Regions from separate parts of the Homo sapiens genome. Here region 2 is linked to region 1. The links come from fine-mapping of genetic effects on gene expression. Tissue or cell type: whole blood. Region 1 holds a variant in brackets; the other region holds the start of a gene. All regions are shown on one strand. Distances are from middle to middle.

Region 1 (11,058 bases):
ACAGAGTTTCAATGGTGACCAATCAGATGCATATACAATGACATCTAATTTTTTCTTGACTTGTATTTTCCTAATCATGAATGAAGTGAACATATTTTCATATGTTTAATGGTCTATGATTTCTACCTCTGTGAAATGTCTGTTCTCCTGCCCATTTGCCTGTAGGTTAGTTGTGTTTTTCTTATTTTGTATTGTTGATCCTAATTTTTGTAGTGTGGGAGTCATGAATATATTCTTCCAGTTTGTAACTTACTTTCACTTTCTTTAAAGTAGCTTCTTATGACCAAAAGTTCTTATTTTTAATATTGCCAAATTTATTAATATTTTATGTCATTGTCAATATGTTTCATGTCTTATTTAAGGAAACCACCTACCCAAGGTCCAAAAGATATTCACTTATATTTTCTACCAAGCCCTTTTTTTCTCTCTCTCTCTTCTTTTTTTTTTTTTTTTCCTTTTAGTGGAGAACAGGGTCTTGCTATGTTGCCCAGGCAGGTCCCAAACTCCTGGGCTCAAGCTATCCCCCCACCTCTGTCTCCCTAAGTGGGGGAATTACAGGCATTAGCCACTATGCCTGGCCACCAAGTGATTTAAAGTTTTAACATTTGAACCGTTAACTTGCTGGAGTAGATTTTTGTATATCATAAGAAGTAGGGTTTTAAATTCACTTTTGAATATGTAGATAATAATTTTTTCCAATCCACTTATTGAACATTTCACCACCTAAATGGAATACCATCTCTGTGATTTACCGAAGTCCTCTATGTATTTTAATATATTTCTCTGAACCCTCTTTAATTCCACTAATCAATTAGGTTTGTAACCTTCTAACATTGCTAAGCTGTCAATTTTTATAGCCTCATGACAGTCCTAATAACCGGAAAAGCAAGTCTCCCAATTTGTTACTCTTCTTCAGAAATATCCTATTTATGGCCCTTAATATATGTATATATGGTACTATCATTTTATTATCATCCATAAAAAATTATGTTTTTACATTGGAATCATATCTATTTTATATATTGATCTGGAAGAATTGATACTTCTATGATATTGACTTCCTAGTCATGAAAATGATATACTTTTTTACATATGTAGTCATTAATATTGCATAATAATGTTTTATAATTTCCCCTGCAGGGCTTTTCTACATATTTTTTAAGATTTATTCTTAGATAATTGAGGTTCCCTGAGACTACTGAAAATGTTGTCTTCCCTTTAATTTTCTATTAGTTTGTTACTGTTATATAGAAATACAACTGACTTTAGCAAACATATTATATCTAGTCTGCTTGCTACACTATTCTATTATTTGTAACAATTTGTAGAATATTTTTCAATGTAAATGATCATAAAACGTGCAATTAATGGTATTTTAATTTCCTCCTTTCCAGTTTAATATTTCTTACAATATTATTGCACTGAGGACTTCAATTCAGTTTAAATATAAGCTACCATACTGTGTATTGTTGTCTCATTCTTGATTTTTCCAGGAATGCTTCTAATGTTCACCTATTTATATCACTTCTAGATGTTAATTTTCTATAGAAAATCACTTTTTAGTAGTAAAACCTTTCCCTAAAATTCCTGATTCCCTAATCATTTTTATTATGAATGTGTATGCTGGTGGGTTATATGCTCTTTATCATCTAATACTGTATGGACTTTAAGACCTAAAATAAAACAAGCAAGTCTTTGATCTACTCTACCATCTGCCTCCAGGATGTGGGATGCTAGGTCTGTGCCAACCAGAAATCTGGCAATATATCTTTCCTTGGATATTATAAACAGAAACACTACATTCTAGGTGATTACAGCTGTGTTCCTTCTTTCCTGCACAGTCTTTCTTCTTTCTTCAACCACTCAAAGTTAGAGAAGGACTGAATGTAGCATATTGTACCCTAAGAAGTGTAGTACCTACATAAAAGTTGCTGTCATCTTGAACAAATACTTAAAAACCACTTGAAGCAGCAACTAATGAATATGCATACAATATGTTAAAAAGCCTCAGGGAAGTAGGCAATAGGTGTAGAAAATATCCCAACTCATTTCACAGCAGTTTCTAAACTGGTAGCTGATCCTCTAAACCTATTCTCTAGCTACATATTTGAGAGCAGAACTCTATCAGTTACCATATGACAGCATGTTGAGGGAAAGAAAAAAAAGATCCTTTCCTGTTGTTTGTAACAAAATTTCAGGTCTTGATAAATATTTCTCTTTGCTTGAATAAGAGAAGCAAAATATAATCAAATCCAGCATGAAATCTGTGGGCAGAGCTATAAAAACAATAAAGTAGTAGAGGCCACATTATCTTGAAGACAGAGAATAAGAGTATATTCTCAGAAAATGATCAAAGCAAAAAGAAGAAAAAAAAGTCTCTTTGGCATATCAGTAGGTAGAAGTGGCTTCTATGACACAGGAGCAAGGATTCCTAAGAAGAGAACAGATTGAAATTTTAAAAATGAGCCAGATGAAAGGGAGGTGGGGAGGCTAAAATTAAAAAATAAAATGAGGTAATGAAAAAATTAAAGAAAATTAATAATTAAATAGAAGGAATCAGATCAACATAGGAGACAGTAATGAATAGAATGCCATTGTTTGAAGAGAACTTTCAGAATGCAGAGACATTTTGAATAGTGAAAATAAAAATATTAGACAAGACAGAATAGATAGCCTAAGAGGCACAGATTACCAAGAATGACATCAAAAGAACTGGAATATAAAATATATGCAATAAACAAAAGCATTATTGAGGAAACCTTTCATTTGCTGAAAATAGGCTATATATATATAGATACATATCTAAATCGATCTATCTTTATCTAAACTCTCTATGTAAGATAGATAGAGGTCAAAATGCCATGCCAGCTGATTTGGTTAATGAAAAAAGGACCTAAACTTTCTCATTCTAGCAGTATTTTGAATCAAATATAATTCAGATCAATAAATATAAAACATAAGTGAAAAAATCCAATAAACATTCAATCAGAGAAAAAGATGCCTGTAATGTCATAAGAAGTATGATTGCCCATAGTCTTTTCCATTGCAGAATTGAGATACCAAATGAACACACAGCAATGTTACAAATGTTTTGAAAAAGCTGAGACTCATTTTTTTCCCATTACATGTGCCTGTAAAAGAAGATTTTTCTCTTTGAAAATCAATCAACTGGCATTCTCATTATAATGTTTTCATGTTACTTATCTGCAGGAAGAAACTACATTAGGCAGTGGACTTGGTAACACCATTTACTCTGCAATTATATTTCCCTTGCAAATTAGTAAAGTCTGATTGCATACAACAGTCTTGACAGCCTAGTTGCTTGAGTCTGCTGTTTGAGACAAGATCAAGTTTTGCTGTCAAATCATGTTTCAAAATCCTCAGGATTAAGTCTAGATTCTGAACAATGGCAAACACTTTAAGGCAATGATCATCAACTCGTAGAAAAGACAAACATACACACATCCCTTTCCAAAGGGAAGGGTCTTGCATGTGGGCAGGGAAGATGTATTCAGTTTCATAAGCCATGTTCAAAATTGCCATCGTTTTGACTTACAACATCAAGGGAAGATATGCAGTTTTTAACAAAAAGGGGATGGGTCATAAATGAAACAGTTCATGAGTTCCTTTGAACATCTTTTCTTTGTCTTGTTTGTTTTCTCTTTTTTTTAATTATACTTTAAGTTCTAGGGTACATGTGCAAAATGCACAGGTTTGTTACATATGTATACATGTGCCATGTTGGTGTGCTGCACCCATTAACTCGTCATTTACATTATGTATTTCTCCTAATGCCATCCCTCCCCACTCCCCCCACCCCATGACAGGCCCTGGTGTGTGATGTTCCCCTTCCTGTGTCCAAGTGTTCTCATTGTTCAATTCCCACCTATAAGTGAGAACATGAAGTGTTTGGTTTTCTGTCCTTGCAATAATTTGCTCAGAATAATGGCTTCCAGCTTCATCCATGTCCCTACAAAGGACATGAACTCATCCTTTTCTATAGCTGCATAGTACTCCATGGTGTATACGTGCCACATCTTCTGAATCCAGTCTATCATTGATGGACATTTGGGTTAGTTCCAAGTCTTCGCTATTGTGAATAGTGCCACAATAAACATACGTGTGCATGTGTCTTTGTAGCATGATTTATAATCCTTTGGGTATATACCCAGTAATGGGATCACTGGGTCAAATGGTATTTCTAGGTTTAGATCCTTGAGGAATCGCCTTCCTGTCTTCCACAATGGTTGAACTAGTTTACACTACCACTAACAGGGTAAAAGTGTTCCTATTTCTCCACATCCTCTCCAGCACCTGTTGTTTCCTGACTTTTTAATGATTGCCATTCTAACTGGTGTGAGATGGTACCTCATTGTGGTTTTGATTTGCATTTCTCTGATGACCAGTGATGATGAGCATTTTTTCATTTGTCTGTTGGCTGCATAAATGTCTTCTTTTGAGAAGTGTCTGTTCATATCCTTCACCCACTTGTTGATGGGGTTGTTTGATTTTTTTCTTGTAAATTTGTTTACATTCCTTGTAGATTCTGGATATTAGCCCTTTGTCAGATGGGTAGATTGCAAAAATTTTCTCCCATTCTGTAGGTTGGCTGTTCACTCTGATGGTAGTTTCTTTTGCCGTGCAGAAGCTCTTTAGTTTAATTAGATCCCATTTGTCTATTTTGGCTTTTGTTGCCATTGCTTTTGGTATTTTAGTCATGAAGTCCTTGCCCATGCCTATGTCCTGAATGGTGTTGCCTAGGTTTTCTTCTAGGGTTTTTATGGTTTTAGGTCTAACATTTAAGTCTTTAATCCATCTTGAATTAATTTTTGTATAAGGTGTAAGGAAGGGATCCAGTTTCAGCTTTCTACATATGGCTAGCCAGTTTTCCTAGCACCATTTATTAAATAGGGAATCCTTTCCCCATTTCTTGTTTTTGTCAGGTTTGTCAAAGATCAGATGGTTGTAGATGTGTGGAATTACTTCTGAGGGCTCTGTTCTGTTCCATTGATCTATATATCTGTTTTGGTACCAGTACCATGCTGTTTTGGTTACTGTACCCTTATAGTATAGTTTGAAGTCAGGTAGCATGGTATCTCCAGCTTTGTTCTTTTTCCTAAGGATTGTCTTGGCAATGTGGTCTCTTTTTTGGTTCCATATGAACTTTAAAGTAGTTTTTTTCCAATTCTGTGAAGAAAGTCATCGGTAGCTTGATGGGGATGGCAATGAATCTGGAAATTACCTTGGGCAGTATGGCCATTTTCACTATATAGCATCTTCCTACCCATGAGCATGGAATGTTCTTCCATTTTTGTCCTCTTTTATTTCATTGAGCAGTGGTTTGTAGTTCCCCTTGAAGAAGTCCTTCACATCCCTTTTAAGTTGGATTCCTAGGTATTTTATTCTCTTTGAAGCAATTGTGAATGGGAGTTCACTCATGATTTGGCTCTCTGTTTGTCTGTTATTTGTGTATAGAAATGCTTGTGATTTTTGCACATTGATTTTGTATCCTGAGACTTTGCTAAAGTTGCTTATCAGCTTAAGGAGATTTTGGGCTGAGACGATGGGGTTTTCTAAATATACAATCATGTCATCTGCAAACAGGGACAATTTGACTTCCTCTTTTCCTAACTGAATACCCTTTATTTCTTTCTCCTGCCTGATTGCCCTGGCAAGAACTTCCAACACGATGTTGAATAGGAGTGGTGAGAGAGGCCATCCCTGTCTTGTGCCAGTTTTCAAAGGGAATGCTTCCAGTTTTTGCCCATTCAGTATGATATTGGCTGTGGGTTTGTCATAAATAGCTCTTATTATTTTGAGATATGTCCCATCAATATCTAGTTCATTGAGAGTTTTTAGCATGATGGGCTGTTGAATTTTGTCAAAGGCCTTTTCTGCATCTATTGAGATAATCATGTAGTTTTTGCCATTGGTTCTCTTTATATGATGGATTATGTTTATTGATTTGTGTATGTTGAACCAGACTTGCATCCCAGGGATGAAGCCCACTTGATCATGGTGGATACGCTTTTTGATGTGCTGCTGGATTCAGTTTGCCAGTATTTTATTGAGGATTTTTGCATCAGTGTTCATCAGGGATATTGGTCTAAAATTCTCTTTTTTTGTTGTGTCTCTGCCAAGCTTTGGTATCAGGATGACGCTGGC[C/T]TCATAAAATGAGTTAGGGAGGATTCCCTCTTTTTCTATTGATTGGAATAGTTTCAGAAGGAATGGTAACAGCTCTTCTTTGTACCTCTGGTAGAATTTGGCTGTGAATCCGTCTGGTCCTGGACCATTTTTGGTTGGTAGGCTATTAATTGTTGCCTCAATTTGAACATCTTCTTTTCAAAACTTGAAAAACAGAAAAGAATTGAGTTAAAATTGATTTCTTTTTCAGAAAGGATTAAATTATTATTTTATGAAGTCTTCTCATTTAGAGGCCATGAGGTTTTGACTTCATTTATTCCAAAATTTGATACTTCTTTGGGTAACATATTTATTTTCTACATTTAAGTATGTGTTATCAATTCTTTTGCTCTCCTTAAGATAGCTGTGGGTTTCAAAATAATTAAAACAAAACCAAAATGAAGCAAACTCTACAACCCAGGGATTAGCATTTTTAATCATAAGTCTGTTTGGATCTAGTACTTAGATCAATTAATATAATAATCTTTGACTGCCCTATATTGAAATCCTATTACGAGAAGATTTTCTTGTTTTGACTCTGAAAGATTACTGGCCAGGTTCAAAATACAGGGTGCATCTTTACATAAATGATATAGTCTGGCCAGTTTCAAAACACAGGGTATATCTTTAGATAACCTAACTTCTTTAGCATATAAGTAATGGTCTGAAAATCACAGTGTTACTCTGGATCATCTCTTAGGTTTCTTCTTTGTCTAATGTCCTAGAGTTCTTTGGTATTTCTATAGTATTTGGCTCATTTTCAAATTTAACCTCATAGAAACCCTATCAGACAAGTTAAGAGGTCTTCCACTGTGTATGTTAACAGTCACCTTGCAGGAAAACATTATCTCATACCTCAGGAAGCAGTTATCTAGATGCTCTCACGATTCAAGTTCAAAGCAAACGAAACAATTCTACCAAAATAAAACTTTGAGATAGAAAATATTTTTAAACTTTTAAGAGACAGAATTGGGGAAGAGGGACAGAACTAAATAGTTATGTTTGAGTTCACAGATAAATAAAGCTAACTTTAACCTGGAAGTCTCATAAATCTTGCTTTGACATGAATTTTAATAAAAATCTGATTAGTTAATGAGGAACCATGTACTAATCTTTTACAAAGCTGCAAAGCATTCATTTAAGTTATAATAGTGATATATCACTATTATATATTCATTTTCTCATTTCTAGCATTTTGCAGTTTTTATTATATCAATTTTGGCCACTATTATATATCAAAATTGTTTGATTTAAATATCATTTAAATTCAATATAATGTTACAGCAAATTAAGATATTTGCTGTTTGTAAAAAAGAACCACTTATAAAAGATTAGTTTTACAATGTAAATCACTCCCCAATCATATTTTTCATAGTCAAAATCAAGTGAAAAGAAGTATAGCTAATAAGCCAAAAGTTGCTATAAATTACTATGCTAAAGAAAATTCAATTAATCTAAAAGAAGGCAGGAACAGAAGGAAAAAAAAAACAAAGAGCAGATGGATAGGACTAAGAGAAATCAAAGAGCAAGATGGTAGAACTTAAAAAAACAACAACAGGCCCCAAATTATGCTGTCTACAAGAAATTTACTATAAATATAAAGTCACATATGTTAAAAGGATGAAGAAAATGTATCATGCAAATGCTAATGATAAGGAAGCTGGAATGGTTATATTATGAGATAAAGTAGACTTCAGGACAATGAACCTCACTGGGGACAAAGAGGAACATTTTACAGGATTAAAGTATCAATTATTCAATTATTTCTTGAAAGGGGCATGAGGGAACTTCTTAACAGTGATGGAAATGTTCTCCATCTCGACTGACTCTTTGAATACTTGGGTGTGTACCTTGGTCAAAACTATTAAACTGTACACTTTAAATAGGTACAATTATGGTATGTAAATTATATCTTTTTTTTTTTTGAATCAGAGTCTCGCTCTGTCGCCCAGACTGGAGTGCAGTGGCAACCTCCGCCTCCTGGGTTCAAGTAATTCTCCTGCCTCAGCCTCCTGAGTAGCTAGGACTGCAGGCACCCGCCACCACACCCGGCTAATTTTTGTATTTTTAGTAGAGATGGGGTTTCACCATATTGGCCAGGCTGGTCTCAAACTCCTGACCTTGTGATCTGACCCCCTGGCCTCCCAAAGTGCTGGGATTACAGGCATGAGCCACTGTGCCCGGCCTGTAAATTATATCTTAATAAAGTTTAAAAAAAAGAAAAAATGGCATTTCCAAATGAATCATAAGTGGGCTAGAGTAGTATTGTAGCATAGTTATTTAGAGCATGTATGCTTGGCCAGACTGCCAGGGGCTAAATCCTGCCTCCTTATATTCCTCACCATATATAAAATTAACTAATTTAACTTCTCTGTGCCTCAGTTTAATTTTAAAATAAGCATTATTGTCACAGTTAAACAGTAGTTGTAAGGACTAAATGAGTTACTACAAATAAAGTGCTTAGAAGAATGTCACAGCAAGTACTCAATCCATGTTAGCTATTATTAAATTCTGTATCCTCTGATTAAGCCTGATTAAGATTGGATGCTTGTAATGATTTGTAGCATTATTTTAATGCATCAAAAGGAGAAAAATAGGAAGAAAAGAAGAAGGAAGAAAAATAGCCCTTTGTTGGAAATCAGTTTTTAACCAAATTAACTAGAATTTATTTGGATGTCTAGATTTTTAGCTTGAGCAATGACAGACCTCTTTCTGTAATTGAATTTGCATAGCTGACACACACCCTATGGGGGAAGTTTGTGGCCAAATACCGAGAACAGTTTAGAATTGTTGGCAAGAATTCTTGCTACCTGATTTGGAAACCCCCATGAGGAACATCTAGGCTCTGTACTGTCATACTCTACAAAAAGGAAAGGCTTCATAAGTATGTTTGAATAAATTAATGAATGGGAGAGCATGGAATTCATTCTAAGTATGTGAAACCTAGTGGCCCTGCTTTATAACTTCATAAAGGAAAAACTCAAGAAGAGAACAGAATATTATGTTGGTCCCAAGGGAGCTTGTTTCTTTAAGTAACTCTTTAGAGCATTGTGTAGCTCTACCATTTTCCACTATAAGATTTAGAAGCAGTCATGCTAATTGCTGTCCTATTGAGCAGTGGTCCCTAAATAATTTTTATGTTTTACCCCATCAAAAAAGTTTGACAACCTGATATATGTATATTTATTTATTCATAACTTATATGCACATATTACCATATTAACATAGTGTGAACATTATAAAACATATAAAATATAATGTGGAGACAATGAGATGAAGATGACATAAGTAATATTTTTATATATTGTCTTCCTAATTGTAGATGGCTTCATAATACTGTTGGCTACAATTTCAAAGCCCAGCATATACTTAGGGTAAGGATTATCTTCAGGAACAATGGACATAAATTCACATTTCAAGTCATCCTATAATTATGAACTTTCTTAGCGATTTTTTTTGTTAAAACTATTTATATGGCCCAAATTTATACCTTAGAATTTGATTGACAAGAACTTGCACTAGGAATAGAACACCTATCAGCACTCATCTTTTGTTGTTAGACTGTACACATAGCATTAGCATTGTCTTATATCCTCAGTTGTTTTACAGACATTCTCCCAGTCTTTTAGTCTCATTTTAATTAAAACTAGATAACACTGGGAGGCCAAGGTGGGCGGATCATCTGAGGTCAGGAGTTTAAGAGCAGCCTGGCCGACATGGCAAAACTTTGTCTCTACTAAAAATACAAAAATTAACCAGATGTGGTGACACATGCCTGTAATCCCAGCTACTTGGGAGGCTGAGACAGAAGAATTGCTTGAACCCAGGAGGCAGAGTTTGCATAGAGCCAAGATTGTGCTACAGCATTCCAGCCTGGGAACAAAGCAAGACTCTGTTAATTAAAAAAAAAAAAAAAAAAAGCTAGATAATATAATTCACAAATTTACTTAATTTGCTTTATTGCATTGCAATGAAGTAAAGCCCAGTAAGGTAAAATGGATGAAAAGTGAGACTGCCCCTGTCCATTGTTCACTCTGTCCTCAGGATACTATGAAAAGTGACTGACACATGTCTAAGTAAAGGACCAGTGTCAATCCACATATAAATCTTAGTAAAGATCAAATTCTATCTCATTTTATATAAAATTAAATAGTAACGGGAATACTAATATTTTCTTCTTTTAGTACCTTAATATTTTATTCCGGCACCTTAACAGACTCCTTGGAACGCATGCACCTCCCCTAAAGGAACCAGCCAATCATGAAAGAAAGCCTGCAATCCACACAAGTAGGAGAGAAGCCTCAAGGTTAGCGGGTACAAATTTTCAGCGCAGACCTACATATAGTAACGTATTTCTTTGTCTTGTTTTTATCTGAACTTCATTACTGACTCAACTTCTCATGTGTATCTAGTAGCAGAAAGCTCTATTCAGTCACTTTTCTGCAAACTCTGTTTAATTTGTGATTATTGAGGGATTTGAATGTTTTGCTAAATCAATTCAAGGACTCCCTCCTCCTCTTCTACGACATTGCATCTAATATCTGAGGACAGGGCATGACATGACAGGGACAGGGGCCTAGGGCCAGAAAGGAATTTATGGTCTTTATAGTAGTATCACGATATTTAGTCTTCAGTCATCTTCTCGGTGATTCCTACTCAGCCCCAGTGCATCTGATGCTGTCCCACATATAAAAAGTGAGGTGTCAAGAAAGAGTACAAGACTTTTGGCTGGAGAACTGATTGAATTGTAATTCCACTTAGCATACTGTGGAGACCAAGAGAAAAAATTGGATTGGAAGGGGTAAATCAGTATCTCTCTCTTGGAAATAAGTTTGAGATGTCTATTATACACTCAAGGCAGATATCAGACGGTAG
Region 2 (9,094 bases), 27 kb before region 1:
CTCCCGGGTTCAAGCGATTCTTCTGCCTCAGCCTTCTGAGTAGCTGGGATTACAGGTGCACGCCACCACACCCAGCTAATTTTTTGTATTTTTAGTAGAGACGGGGTTTCACCATGTTAGCCAGGATGGTCTCGATTTCCTGACCTCGTGATGTGCCCGCCCCAGCCTCCTAAAGTGCTGGGATTACAGGCGTGAGCCACCACACCCGGCCAAGAAAGTTTCCTTTATTGAAGGTAATACTAGAACAAATAATCACAGTGGTATCTCTCTTTATTAAGTATTTTCTATGTGCCAGGCACTGTGATAAGCAATTTAAATATACTATGTCATTTGATTCTCAAAACTGCTCTCCGAACTGGGAATTATGGTCCTCATTTTAGAATTGAAAAACCAGTGCTGGGTCAAATAGAAAATTTGTTAAAGTATACACAGCTAATAAATCTGAACTCCCATACTGAAGGGCTTCCAAGTTTGTTTATACATCATTTATATATATATATATTCAATGATCCTTATAAACCATGTTCAAATTGTTTTAATAAAGAGATTTTTTTCCACACTTTTGGGTTTTTGAGTTTACTCTGATTATGACTAGAAACACATCAGAAGTGACAAAGTAGCATGTACTACACCAGAAGCACAGAGTAAACAGGTAGGATGCAAACTTTAAACTCTACCAATATGTTACAACTGAATAAAACCCAAAGCTGGGATAATAAGGTGAAACAGTTGATACGTTAAGGTGAAAGGGGTGAGTTATCTTTTGGTGGTTGTTTCTTCCCAACATAGTTGTCATTATAATTCCATGACATATTTATGTTCACAACTAAGAAATGGTAGACAAAAGATCCAGAAGAAAGTAGTAGTATGGTCAATTACTTGGCACTTAGTCACTATTTGAAAACATCTGACAAAAGCAATTTTATTTTATTCCATAATGCAGAAAATACCCCAATCTTTATTTCCATCTTAGATATACTTTACCCAGCACAAAAAGTAAAGATGGCAAATAGCTCAGAGTCATCCCAGAGAATCATTTTAACGTGAACATGTATTTGTATTATTTCGAGAATGTAAGGGTATAGTAAATGAACATGAAACAATACAGTGTCGTGGTTAAGAGTGGAGGCCAGAGTCAGACTGTTTGACTTCCAACCCAAGCTCCACCACCCACTAATCTTGCTATGTGATCTTGGCCTATTTCATTGATGAAATGGGAATAATAATAGTGCCTACTGTGAGAGTTAAGTGACTTAGTAGAAGTAAAGCCCTTAGAAGGTGTATGGAACCAAGTAAGCTCAATGTTAGTTTTACTGTTATTTTTTTAACTTCAAACCCCATTTCCAAGTAATACTTAAAATTCAAGTACTTATTACATGTTTAGTACTATTTTTTATGCTTCACATGTATGAGCTCATTATTATGTATACTCCATTTTACAGATAAGAAACTGAAGCACACAGAGATTAAATTCAAGTTACATGCATCATCTGCAACAGATCTAAACTATCATCTGCAACAGGGCTAAACTATGAATTCAGGAAATCTGACTCCAGAGTCCACATTGCCCTTATCCACATACAATTCCTCTCTGTGTTTTCACATTCAAATATCTCCAATCTCACTTGCCTCACATGAAAACAGATAATGAAAACGGGTACTCATGCCTGTAATCTCAGCACTTTGGGAGGCTGAGGCAGGAAGATCGCTTGAGCTCAGGATTTTGAGACCAGCCTGGGCAACATGGTGAAACCCCATGCCTACAAAAAATACAAAACTTAGGAAGGATCTCTTGAGCCAGGGAGCTTGAGGCTGCAGTGAGCCAAGATTGGGCCAAGGCACTCCACCCTGGGTGACAGAGACCCTGTCTCTAAAAAAAAAAAAAAAAGGGGAAGAAGAAGAAAGAAAACAGATAACGACAATATCTACACTCGAGATACTGTGAAGATTAGGGGAAAAGAGACTATAAACATATTCAGCATCTGTTTCAGTAAACCCAAACCTGAAATGCATTAAGAGTACACCCCTCTGATATAATTTAGTACCTAGATTTATATCGCCAGCATCTAGAATATGCATGACTTATAGTAGCCCTTCAACAAACATTCTTTAATTTATATATGATGACATTTAGGCAAAGGCAAATTTCATGATATCCTCAAGATCACAGATGACTCAGTAATGAAAGCTTAACTGGAACCAGTCTCTCCAGACTTCTAGTCTAGTGATCTTTCTACTGCATGGCATTCCAGACAGATAAATTAGGGGATAATCATTTAAATTCACTGAAAGATGTCTTTAAACAGAAGCCAAGAACAGAGCTCTGACAGGTTCTTAACCTGGGACTCATGAATAATGAACATCTGGAAGCCTCATGTCCCTCTCCTAACGAAACTGTGTGCCTATGTGTGTTTCCAAGGCCTGGCCTGTGGCAGAGCCCACACTCCAATCCATGTTTCCTAGTTCAAAGTCCAAAGTTCTGTTTACTACAGCACGTTTTCCTGTTCTGCAGACTATCTTTAAAAAGATTTCCAAGTCGGGCGCGGTGGCTCATGCCTGTAATCCCAGCACTTTGGGAGGCTGAGATGGGCAGATCACGAGGTCAGGAAATTGAGACCATCCTGGCTAACACGGTGAAACCCCGTCTCTACTAAAAGTACAAAAAATTAGCCAGGCATGGTGGCGGGCGCCTGTAGTCCCAGCTACTCGGGAGGCTGAGGCAGGAGAATGGCGTGAACCCGGGAGGCGGAGTTTGCAGTGAGCCGAGATTGCGCCACTGCAGTCCAGCCTGGGTGACAGGGCGAGACTGTCTCAAAATAAAAAATAAAATAAAATAATAAAATAAATTTTTAAAAAGACTTCCAAAAATATGTGTGTGTGTTCAGCAAATCTAGAAAAACTCTCAAAATTATACCAGAAAATCTTTTAATCCAAAATATTTTATAACTTCTCAAGAATCCAATGAACCATAGTTCAGACATAATTCAGCTCGCCTTATGCCTTATTTGAACATAGTTTGAACACTCAGCAGTATATGAATGGTTGAAGTATGGCTGCTGGGATTGGCCAAACTTAGCTATTGTTACCAGTGCATACTCTTAAGTTAGGTTTTCAGTCTCATCTGACTATTAAGCTAGGTTACAGTTCATTCACAAGGATTCAAATATAGAAGTAAGGAGTCCTTCTCAGGCCGTATTTAGTTTGCTTTAACAGTACCAATACACAAGCCAGTCCCAGCCTACTCAATCTAAAGAACTGTAGCCAAAAACACACAGGTGAAGCTTCCTAGAACTTCTGTCGTCCGACCACCAGGACTTGACAGGGCAGAAAACTAAGACTGGGAATTTAAACGCAAAAACACAAAACAAGAAAGCAGTAGCCAGGCAGGGTGGATGCTGAAAGGAAGTCCAAGCATGTGGGGCTGAGAGGAGGCAGGAGAGTTGTCACATCAAGTGGAAAATACGCAAAATATTACAAACAAGGAGAATTGTGAAACTGCTGAGTGAACACTTCAGACCTTTGAACTCCAGTAACACTTCAGACTTTCGAACTCCAGTGACTCCAGTAACACTTCAGACCACTGAACTCCAGTAACCCCTCTTCCTTCCCCTTTAGTAGGAGGGGATTCAACCTTGCAGTTTCCCAAACAGGAGGTGTGAAGACTCACAGAGTCCCCAGAAAGCGCTCATTCAGGCCTCTTTAAAACACAGGTGAATTTGCCATTGTGTGGCCTCAAGCAACGTGAGACATTTTATTTCAAAACCCTAACCGGTCACATAATTAAAGGAACACAAGCTAAGCCGTAATAAAAGCAGAAACCAGTATACATAAACATTTTGGGGAAATTTCTTGTAATGACTGACATTTGCCACAGTTCGGAAACCAGATTTACAGTTTTTGCTTCAGACCTGACAGCTGAGTCGTGAGGACTTGGCCTTCAAAGAGAAGATATTTGCCCTAGAGCGCTCCCAAGTCCTGAGAAAGCACAGAGGGAGCGAAAGAGGTTTCAGCACTAGGTGCTGCTACCGAGTCTCAGGGACAACTCTCCCCTAAAAGAAAACAGAACCCCACTTCTCTAATTTTGTTTTTCCTCTTAACAGTGCAATTATTTTTAAAGGGAGTTGAGGAGGTGAGGGCACCTTGATTTTTGGAACTGGAGGCTCGGATGGCATTGTACAATCTCCCACCAAAATGTATCTATTCTGGACCAGTGAGTCTCAAACTTAGCCGAAAGGAATCATGCGGAGGGTGGGTTAAACAGCATACTGTGGAAGCCCAACGCCGGCGTTTCAGATTCAGTAGGTCTGGGATGGGCTGGAAATTTGCAATGCTAACAATTTTAAGTGCGGCGGCTGCTGCCACCGGTCCAGGGCACACTTAAGAGAATCACTACTGTAACGGGCACTGTGTTAAGTGCTGGGAGTGAATAAAATGGGTCCCGCCCGCAGGAAACCTAGTGGACATCCAGGTGAAATGAAGTCCCCGTGAGTTCCACGGTAGACTAAGGGGTGAGTCTACCCGAGGGTGCTTTCGCGCTCTGGCTGGGTGAGTGGCAGAAAAAGCCACTGATCTCGGTCGAGCAAGACAGAAGATAGTGTGAGTCACGCTGAAATTTACTTCCCTGAGCTGGTGGGGAAACTGCAGTCCCCCTCCATTCAGGACCGATTAGGGGCCTCTTGCTGTGCTGGACATCGGACTCCCAGCTTCCTCTTCCCTTGAGTCCCGCAGCTTTTCCTTCCTTCCCCAAGGAACAAAACAACTGAGATGCAGGATGTAAACAAAAGCCAGGCTGGCGAAATCCGGCCGACGCGCCCTTGGAGCGCCCCCACCGGCGAGGGCATTTCCCCCGCCCAGCCCCGGCCTCCCGGCTGGACGCCCTAACGCTGTAGTCCCTTGGTCGCCCTCCCCGCGCCCACCAGCCGTGGTCAACGCCGGACGCGTCAGGGGCCCCGCTAGCCCGAGCCTCTGCCGGGGGCAGCTGCCCCCACGCACTTTCTCCTGCTGTGCGCAGGCGCCGCCGCTCCGCGCTCTTTGCCGGCTGGGAAGAGAAGGGTCGCGGACAACTCACCTATCGCCGGAGGAGGATTCCTGCCGCCTGCGGGCGCCACGGGCAGCCCGAGGCCGGAGCGGCAGTGCCAGGCAGTCAGCAGGCAGCAGACGAGTGCGCGCACCAGCGCCATGGAGGGCCGCGGGGCTGACCTGGAGGTTCGGGCTGTCCCGCAGCTCCACTCGGACCGTCAGGCCTGAGGGTGAGGCGGAGACAGAAGACGGCTGCGGGTGTAGACGTCCGACTGATCACGTGCAAAGGCAGATTCCGCAGCGAGTCAGTTCGCCTGACCTTCAGCTGCTGTTTAGCGATGATCTGTTCTCGTATTTCTTAGCGTCAGTGTTTGGCCTAGGAAGGAATGTACTTGTAGAAGCTCAAATTCCGACTCGTGTATCAGTGGTGCAGTTGATGTCAAACACTGACATACTGGTGCTTGGGGATAGAGAAAGACATTCAATTTAGTAAAAGCCAGAAGGAGGGAGAACAAGATCTCTCAAATCCGTGTGTAAAAAGGAAAAAGCAGGGAGTTTTTATTCTGCTAGAGAATAAGAGAGGGGGATTTTCAAAGAATCCAGGGGAAAAGTCTGTTTCTTCAGTCTCAGATAACACCTTTGAGCAATTAGACGTCCAGGCATCCGCAGCTGGTTGCAAAGCCCTTGGAGGTATTCATCCCTTCTGCAAACATTTTTGTGACCCTGAAGTTAACCTCTTTGTTCTTGACGAGGAAGCAGTACCTCAGCAGTTTATAATTATATTGTGGAAACAAGGAGAATATTGGGCAAAAAGCGAGTGGTTAAAATGTGCAAGCAAGCAGGAGCCTGATCAGAATTTTCATTATTTCAGTCACTAAAAAATGCTGGGGTGCTGAAATCTCAACGATCCCGGTTCCATTCTTGGGCCAACCTACCCCAGCTTTAATGGGTAGGGCTCCTCAGTAGAGGTGATGCAGAGAGCCCTGAAGTATCATGATTTGAAGGAAATCAGCAAAAGTTATGGATACTGCAGTGGATCTCGAATTGAAGTCTCTGAACTGGGAACATTAGCACCACCTGGGAACTCTAGTTAGAAATGCAAATTCCCAGGCACCACCCTAGACCTGTTGAGTCAGAAACCTGCTGGAGCCCAGCAGTTTGTGTTTTCACAAGCATTTCAGGTCATGTTAAAGTGATTGTGATGTTTGAAAACCAATGCTCAAAGATACGACGTTTTGTTTTTTGTTTTTTTTAAACTGCCGGGAAGAGAAGGGTCTTAGAATTAGAACATGTTCTGAAATCATGCTTTATGCATTCCAGAGATGCATGGAAATCATAAGTAGAGGTGGTTGATTTGATGCTTCCACGGAACTTTTTTGAATATACTTCTGGCAAAGAAGTAAGTCTATACAAAGAAGTAAGCAAAGATAAGTCTGGCAAAGAAGTAAGTCTATACAAAGAAGTAAGCAAAGATAAGTCTGGCAAAGAAGCCAGAATCCCGAAACTGTGCTGGATCCTGTATTCTGTGTTCCTTCTCTCACCGTTTATGAGGATGCTGATCTCTTGGAGATGACAAGCTAATAATTTAAATTTATAGGGCGTGGAATTCCTTTGCAGAAGAAAATGCTTTCCATAATTACTAACCTCAAAAAAGATGTTGTAGAGTGTATTTCTTTCCCAGCATAGAAAGCTTTGTTTTGTATCCCATGTAATTTAATGGGAGTGTGTGTCATGAAACGGGCTTTGAAGTGGGAAGCAAGGTGCTTCCATTTTCTGTTTTGTAAACCAAAAATAAAATTTGAAGGCCCCCCACAACCATCTGAATGGACGACCATCTGTATGGACTCTTTCCCCAGTCAGGGCACTCTAAAATTTAACCTGAAAGACTGGTTCAGGCCATGAAAAAGGGGATGGGGGGGTTGGACATGCGTAATTAACATCAACATAGACCATAAGTCTGATAAGAAACATTTAAGATCTGTTTTCTCTAAAGCCTGCTACGTGGAGGCTTCGTCTGTGTGACAAAATCTGGGTCTAACAACCCCTTATCATAACCCAGACATCCTTTCTATTGATAATAACTTTTTCAATCAACCAATTGCCAATCAGGACATGTTTAAATCTTCCTGTGATCTGGAAACACCCACCCCCCGCCCAGCTTCAAGTTGTCCTGCCCGTCTAGATCGAACCAATGTAAAAATCTTACATGTATTGATTGCTGTATCATGTCTCCCTAAAATGTATAAAAGCAAGCTGTATCCTGACCACCTTGGGCACATGTCAAGACCTCCTGAGGCTGTGTCACTGGCCCATCCTTAACCTTGGCAAAATAAACTTCCTAAATTGATTGAGACCTGTCTCAGGTACTTTTGTGTTACAGTTTCAAGTCCTGCCAGGGCAGCCGAAGTCCTGCTTCAGCTTTTGGATGATTCAAAAGCTTGCAAGAACCAAAGTGCATTCCAGTGGAGGACAAGATGGTCCCTGGAGTTTCTCAGTTCACAACCTCTAGAATATGGGAGAAAATGGAGCCAGAAAAAACTGGTGAGCTGGTGAGAGAAAACGACTGTAAGGATTAACAAAACAACTTAGGAGTTTTTAGTCCAAACATTTAAAGCTAGGAAAAGGATAAATTATAAAAATAGCTCTTTTCACTCCTTTTTTTTTTTTTTCCAATTTCAATATACTTTACTGGAAGTAACTGGTTGCAAAATAGTTTTTCAGTAAGCATAAAACAAGGCATACACATTTTGAAACTTAAGAAATGTTTGAAATCCTAAAAAGTACAGTATATTAAAATTAGTGGGTAGAAACACCATCCTTCTTTCTACTCACTCCACTTTCTTTTTTTTTTTCTTAATACTCACTAAGAAGCAAAAAACTACAGTGCCCCAACATCTCTACAGGCATATCTCAACCATGGGCATATATTTGTAGGTCTCCATGTGCCAGGTGTACAAATATGTCATCGTGAGTGTGTATATCTGGGTGAGGGAAATCACATGAAAGAAGAGCAGAAGCTTCACAAAACAGCCTTAGCTTAGTTTGTATCATTGAGACCTTCGTATCATTTCAGAAATGTTCTTCCAGGGCCTGTTGGTCAAATTGCCTTTGGTCTTGGTCATTTTTCCTTTCCTTTAATTATGTTTCTTAACTATGTTAAGAAACAAAACAAAGACGGCAAACCAGAAAAGTTAGTGCATTGACAGATTGACAGTGTGAAATAGAATTTGGTTTGAAGAAAAATGATTTGCGACTACCCAGAAAAACTTAGGAAGCAAACATGTTAATTATCTTCCCTCTTAAAATCATTTGTTCTACCACTGCAACCCTTGATCTTTCAGACCATTGCATCTTTGTTTCCCATTTAGGCCACCCAAAAACCTTTTCATTCTTCACTCTGGGAGACAGTTGTTATGGAAACTGGTGCCAGTGTTATTTGGCTTCATTTTAATGAGCTAAAGATAAATCTCTATCTTTGGCTTTGTATCTTTAATAAGAGAGAGGCCAGAATCTGGGCTTCTGGTAGAGTGTAGGCTGAAATCCAGTTGTTAAACAGCCCTCCACCAGAAGCAGAGATGGTGGCTGTCAGAACAGTTGGAGCCAACAACCTGTTCATGTTGTGTTTCATGCTTTTAAAGACGGGTAAACTGAGTGCAGTGGTATGTGCCAGTAGTCCCAGCTATTCAGGAGGCTGAAGTAGGAGGATTGCTTGAGCACAGGAGTTTGAGACTAGATTGGGCAGCTAAGCAAGACCCCATCTCTTAGGAAAAAAAAAAAAAAGAAAATTTTCTCATACTTATAGCTGTAAGTTAATTGAACATTTTTTTTTCTTTTGAGACAGAGTCTCTCTCTGTCACCCAGGCTGTAGTGCAATGACACAGTCTTGCCTCACTTTAACCTCCACCTCCCGGCTCAAGCAATTCTTCTAACTCAGCCTCCTGAGTAGCCGGGATTACAGAAATGCACCATCACACCTGGCTAATTTTTGTATTTTTAGTAGAGACAGGGTTTTGCCATGTTGGTCAGGCTGGTCTTGAACTCTTGGCCTCACGTGATCCACCTGCCTCAGCTTCCC

Evidence for each region. PIP is the estimated chance that this variant, and not a neighbour inherited with it, causes the effect.
Region 2: it holds the start of SMPDL3A, and the variant in region 1 is fine-mapped to the expression of SMPDL3A in whole blood (TOPMed, PIP above 0.99).

What each region holds. Positions count from the first base shown.
Region 1 is chr6:122,757,151-122,768,208 of GRCh38, reverse strand. It overlaps a transcript of FABP7 not described here. Among named protein-coding and RNA genes, the nearest start is that of FABP7, 17 kb to the left of the region's middle. The variant C/T (reference allele first, on the strand shown) is at 6,166.
Region 2 is chr6:122,785,433-122,794,526 of GRCh38, reverse strand. SMPDL3A (sphingomyelin phosphodiesterase acid like 3A) reads right to left here and starts at 5,269. Exons shown (of 8, transcript NM_006714.5): 1 at 5,069-5,269. The coding sequence starts at 5,180. RefSeq lists a cis regulatory region at 3,269, enhancers at 3,185-3,354, 4,458-4,957, 4,958-5,459 and silencers at 3,549-3,843, 4,949-5,243.